Linked DNA regions of Homo sapiens: region 2 is linked to region 1. The links come from fine-mapping of genetic effects on gene expression. A gene starts in region 1. The other region holds a variant in brackets. All regions are shown on one strand. Distances are between the middles of the regions. Region 1 holds the start of BCAR1 (BCAR1 scaffold protein, Cas family member). Region 2 holds the start of CTRB1 (chymotrypsinogen B1).

Evidence for each region. PIP is the estimated chance that this variant, and not a neighbour inherited with it, causes the effect.
Region 2: its variant is the best candidate, but not a certain one, in a credible set for the expression of BCAR1 in unexposed skin (GTEx, PIP 0.77).

What each region holds. Positions count from the first base shown.
Region 1 is chr16:75,250,260-75,253,155 of GRCh38, reverse strand. It overlaps BCAR1 (BCAR1 scaffold protein, Cas family member), which reads left to right and starts at 1,532. Exons shown (of 7, transcript NM_014567.5): 1 at 1,532-1,685. The coding sequence starts at 1,674. RefSeq lists enhancers at 1-239, 780-1,320 and silencers at 1,320-1,429, 1,490-1,649.
Region 2 is chr16:75,218,258-75,221,153 of GRCh38, reverse strand. CTRB1 (chymotrypsinogen B1) reads right to left here and starts at 2,166. Exons shown (of 7, transcript NM_001906.6): 1 at 2,095-2,166. The coding sequence starts at 2,146. RefSeq lists an enhancer at 2,549-2,628. The variant A/T (reference allele first, on the strand shown) is at 1,248.

The DNA of each region.
Region 1 (2,896 bases):
CAGCTTCCCTGAAGGCTGGCTCCTCTTCTGAGGCGAGGCGGGCTGTGTCGGGGAGGCACAGGGTGTTGGCTAGCTGTTCTGTTCCTCCTGAGGACTCTGGGTCATGCTCTGTCTCATCCCACTGCTCCTTCCTCACCCGCTGTGCTGTGAGTTCTGGCCAATGCTTCCCAAGCCAAATATTGAAGAAATGCAGACGTCCAGTTTTTTGGGAGGGGTGGGACACAGGAGTCTGTTTTTTAACTAGCTCCCCAGAGCACCTGAGCAGCAAATCATGGGCTGTCCTAGCCCCTTTTCAGATGAGAAAGGAGCCCAGAGAGGGGAGAGGGCCTGCCAAGGTGGCACATCTGGCCAGGCGCTGCGTAGGCTGAGCCCTGGGGGTCAGACAGAGGGGCAGCTGCAGGCCCACCTGGGCTTGTGTCTTCCATAGGCCATGCTTGAGAATTCTCTGCTGCGTGAAGCCGGGTCTACCCCGCTGCTTCCCTGCCACCAGGGCTGCCTCGTGGCATCCCATTGCTCAGCCAGTGGCCCAGGATTGTTGACTGAGGGTCCTGTCTGGTCTGGACCAGGCTCGGTCCTATCATCTCCCTGCAGATTGTGCCTCCCTGGCCTGGCCCAGGGGCTCTGGCACCCTGGTTCTGCTGCATGGGGTGACAGTCACTGACCTGCAACCGAGCAAGGGGCAACTCAGGAGAGCCAAGGTTGTCTCCACTCGGTTTCCCCCGAGTGATTCTTCCTTCTATCTCCCTCATTCCCCCAGTGCCGCTCTCCTACCCCATGTCGCTGAAGCAGATGAGTTGGAGCAGGACTCAGGAGGGTACTAGGCCCAGGTTTTAGGCTGAACCTAGGAATGAGTAATGAGAGGAGGCAGATCAGCTGGAGGACCAGCCCGAGTCCCCAGATGTCGGCACAATGCAGGGGAAGGTAGGTGCTGCCCGTGAAAAGCGCTGGGTCGAGAGCTCGCCAGCCTCCCTGCTTGAGGCTTCATTTCCTGGGGTCCTTACACGGTGGGACCGTCTACAGTCGGAGCTGTGGTGGTGATGATTCGTCTCCTACAGGCTGGGGCACGCCCCCTCCCCTTTCCCTCTAGATTCAGATTTGAGTCCCACGGCCCATGGACACGCGATGAATGCCCTGGGGTTGGTTAGCGGGAAAGACAAGTCGACTTGAGGCCATGTCTCGGCTCTGGAGGAAGAAGGCAAACCGGGCAGCCTTCCCAGAAGTGGAGGAGTTTGCGTAGGCCTTCGGTGCGTTCTCGCCTGGGTGGAAGGCGGGGACGTGCATTTGTTGGAGAGCGGTGTCCTGCGCCCTAGGCTGGAAGCCTGGCCTCGGGCAGGGGCCTGGAGCCTCGGGGTTGGAGGTGGGGGGCGGGGCGGGGGGCGGCCCCTACTGGGCGGGCTTCTGTCTGCGCGCCCGCGCCCCCGACAGGCGGCTTATTTGCATGGAGAGCGGCGGCGGCCAATGGGCGCGCGCGGCCGGGCATGCTGGGATCGGGCTGGGCCGGCTGGGCCGTGGCGGCAGGCGGAGAGCGGCTGGACCGGCTCTGGGTGGCCGAGGCGGCAGCTGCGCGGCGGCACCGGGGCGGCTGCGGCGCGCTCGGAGCCCCGAGGGCACGCGGCCCGGGCAGCTCGGTGTGCGCCCCCGCGAGAGCCGGGGCCCCAGGCCCGCCGGACACCATGAACCACCTGGTGAGGGCGCCAGGTGGGGCCGGGCCGCGTACGGGCTTGGAGGCGGCAGCGGGCTGGAAGGGGTTAAGCGAGCGGCATTTCCTGCCGGACCTGCGGGGCCTGGGAACCGCCGGCCGGGGTCCGCGGCCCTGGGATCTCCTTCTGCCCTGGCCGGGAAGCCGGGAGGCAGGAACCGCGGGGGCTCCGGAGCCTGTGCGCCTCGGGTGCGTTGGCGGGGCCGGGCGCGGGGGCCGCCAGCCGGTAGGAGGGTTCCTGTGTCGGGAAAGTGGCTGGCGGGGCCCGCGCTCCCCGGCCGACGGCCGCCTGCTGTGTCACCTTGGGCCTCTGCGCCCTGCCTCCGAGCCTCAGTTTCCTCGGCTGCGAGGAGGGGCCGTTGAGCCTCTGGCGGGTGGTCCGGCTGGTGTGGCGTGGGGACTGCCCACCGGCTCCCGGAGAGGGAGGAGCTCCGGGGGACCGAGGCCGGGCGGGCAAGTGCGTGGCGCCAGCGGGGAAGGCTGCGCAGCCGGAGCACCCGGCTCCAGTTAATGATTCACTCCGGCCGCCGGCGCGGGGTTCCGGGAGCGGAGCGGGAGTGGGGGCGGGCGCGCCGCGGGCTTTGCAGCCCCGCACGCCGAGCGCCGGTGGAAGCCGGGTCCTGGCCACAGGAGTCCTAGCCGCACGCGAGTGTCGCGGGAGGGGGCCAGGGCCGGGTTCTGCAGTGTGGACATGAAGGCTTTGGAGTCCATGGTTGGGGGACCCGCAAGAGCTAGAGCAGGGTCGGAGCTCCCTCTCGAGGGTCCGAGAGGCTGATCGCTGGACCGAGGTGAGGGAGTTGGGAAAGCGGAGATTTGCCTAGGGGTGCGGGGTGAGGGGCTTACGGCCTGGAAGATGTTGGGGTTTCGAGTTCCAGATCGGGGACAGCAGCTCCTTTTCTACCACAAGGCTCCCGTTCCCTCCTGAGAGTCCCTGGTTTCCTTTCCCACACCCCTCCCGGGGCCCGCCGCAGCTTTGGTCACCTTCTCAGAATGACCATGGGTTGATCTCTTCTTTGCTAGTGAGATGTTTCCCATCGCCCTGGGCCGGGACACGCCCCCTCTTGTGCCCATTCCTTTCCCTCGGTGGAGAGTTGGGTGGTGGGGGCTGGCCGGCCTGTGAGAGCAGGTGTCGGGGTGCCTGGAGAATCGGGGCCCAGGTACGGGGGTGGCGGGGCTGTGGGGAAAAGAGCTTTGGGG
Region 2 (2,896 bases), 32 kb after region 1:
GGGGTCATATTCGCCTGCTTACAAGGCAGCCCCTGCGTCTCCTGCCCACAGGAACACAGGCAGGCAAGGTGCCTCCCTGACGTTTCAGAGCATCAAAAACTGGTATTGTAATAGCAAAAAAATGAGAAAGAGCACGTTGGAAGGCCGAGGCAGGTGGATCACAAGGTCAGGAGTTCAAGACCAGCCTGGCCAATATGATGAAACCCTGTCTCTACTAAAAATACAAAAATTAGCTGGGGTGGTGGCTCATGCCTGTAGTTCCAGCTACTCAGGAGGCTGAGGCAGGAGAAATGCTTGAACCTGGGAGGTGGAGGTTGCAGTGAGCCGAAATCATGCCACTGCACTCCAGCCAGGGCGACAAGTGTGAAACTCCATCTAAAAAAATAAATAAATAAATAAGAGAACTAGATGGTGGCATACTCACACAACAGAGCACGCATTATAAAAATGCAGGTGAATGAGCTGAAACTCCACGTCAACATGCAGGAAGTGAGAAGATTTGAGTAGGGAAAAAGCACATTGTTGTAGAATGGAGGTAGAATGGAGTATTAGTTACATCAGCCAGGCACAGTGGCTCACACCTGTAATCCAGCACCCTGGGAGGTTGAGGTGAGCAGATCACTCGAGCACAGGATTTCGAGACCAGCCTGGACAACATAATAAGACCCCAGGTCGGGCATGGGGGCTCACGCCTGTAATCCCATCACTTTGGGAGGCTGAGGTGGGCGGATCACTGGAGGTTAGGAGTTCAAGACCAGCCTGACCAATATGGTGAAACCCCATCTCTATTAAAAATACAAAAATTAGCCAGGTGTGGTGATGCATGCCTGTAATCCCAGCTACTCAGTAGGCTGAGGCAGGAGAAATGCTTGAACCCAGGAGGCGGAGGTTGCAGTGAGCCAAGATCACGCCACTGCACTCCAGCCTGGGTGACAAGAGTGAAACTCTGTCTCAAAGAAAAGAAAAAAAAATAACAAAAAAAACCTCCATCTCTACAAAACAAAACAAGTTTTTAAACTTAGCGTGCCTGTAGCGCCAGCTACTCGGGAGGCTATAGTGGGAGGATCACTCGAGCCCTTGAGTTTGAGGCTGCAAACTCACACTACTGCACTCCAGCCTGGGTGACAGAGTGAGACCCTGTCTCAAAACCAAAACCAAAACCAAAACCAAAAACAGGATAGAATACCGTTCCATTGATGTAACCTTTTTGAAACCTTATGTATAGATGTATAAAAATATGTAGTACA[A/T]TTGTATAAGCTCACACTGCAATTATTCATAGAAAGTTCAGAATCAAGCTCACATTCCAGAGAGGGAAGGAGGGAGAAAAGGGAAGCCTGAGTACAATCTGTTTTAGAAATATCTGAAGCAAATGTGCAAAAAGATTTGCTGAATTCTGACAGTAGATACAAGGATGTCATATTCTTTTCTGTATTTTCTTTTACTATTTCTCTTTTAAAAAATAGAAAACACGGCTGGGCACAGTAGCTCATGCCTGTAATCCCAGCACTTTGGGAGGCCGAGGCGGGGGCATCACCTGAGGTCAGGAGTTCAAGACCAGCCTGGCCAACGTGGTGAAAGCCCGTCTCTACTAAAAATTAGCCAGGGTTGGTGGTCCATGCCTGTAGTCCCAGCTGCTCGGGAAGCTGAGGCAGGAAGATCATTTGAACCCAGGAGATGGAGGTTGCAGTAAGTGGAGATTGCACCATTGCACTCCAGCCTCGGCAATAGGAGTGAAATTCTGTCTCGAAAAAAAAAAAAGAAAGAAAGGAAGAAAATGCTTGACAAGTACCCAGCACAATAAAAACCCCGGTGGAGGCCTTGGGAGGTCTCCTGGGGCCACACCTTACCCTGCACAAGGCACCCCCACCCCAGCCACTTCTGGAGCCTCAGACCATGGCAGAGACCAGCATCGTCCTTCCCACTCCTGGAGCAGGTTGTGTGGGCTCAGAAAGCCCCAGAATGCACCCTCTCCTGAGCCCTCAGGTTACCTGTGCTGGGGATGAGGCCCCAGGGGGCAGAGCAGGGGACTCAGATCCCCCTCTCAGCCAGGCTCAGGGCTCCCTCAGGACAGACCCCTCGGGCACCAGCACTCACCAAAGGCGGCCCCCACAAGGGAGAAGCAGGAGAGGAGCCAGAGGGAAGCCATGCCGCTGCCTCAGAAGGTGTGGGGCCTGCCAGCTGCGGGGCCCCTTTTACCACCTTGGGGGGGCAGGGAGCCCAGCCCCCCCCGCTCCCCCAGCCAGGGAGGCCTGAGCCCACCCTCCCTGTTACCCAGGGACCTTGGGCAATAAGTGGAGACAGAGCCCCGCCTGGCTCTCTACCAGACAACCCCAGTCCCTGGGAAAGGGGCAGCTGCGCTGACATCACCGGTCAGCCTTGGGGACATGATCCCACAGAGCCAGCTGTGAGCTGCAGTATCCCTGCCAGGAGACGGCACCAGGCTCTTCTGTTCCCAGAGGGGAAGTGGAGGCAGTTCCACCCCAGGGCTCGTGGAGGACCAGCTGCTGTCATGGAACCAGGTCTCCGGGAACTCAGGCTCTCAGTGAAGGGTGTTTCCGCCTAACACTGTCCTAGAAGCAAAGGGTGACTCAGGGCATCGTGGATTCTCCAGAGTGTCACTGCAAGTCACCAGTGAAGCCAAGCCACTTCTGACTGTGGCGAGGGTCTGGGTGACAAGGACCAACCCGCTGGTGGCCGTAACAGGTGGGCAAAGCCACTGACACGCGTCCCACCTGTGCTGTAGAACCCAACAGAATTCACTTTTTCTGCAATGACTCATGATATAAGGAACTAATCATTTCATAAAGTTTCAGTTTCTTACAAAATGGAACTTGGATTCCGCACCATAAAATGACACAGAAAACAAACTTTTTAAGATGGAGTCTCACTCTGTCAC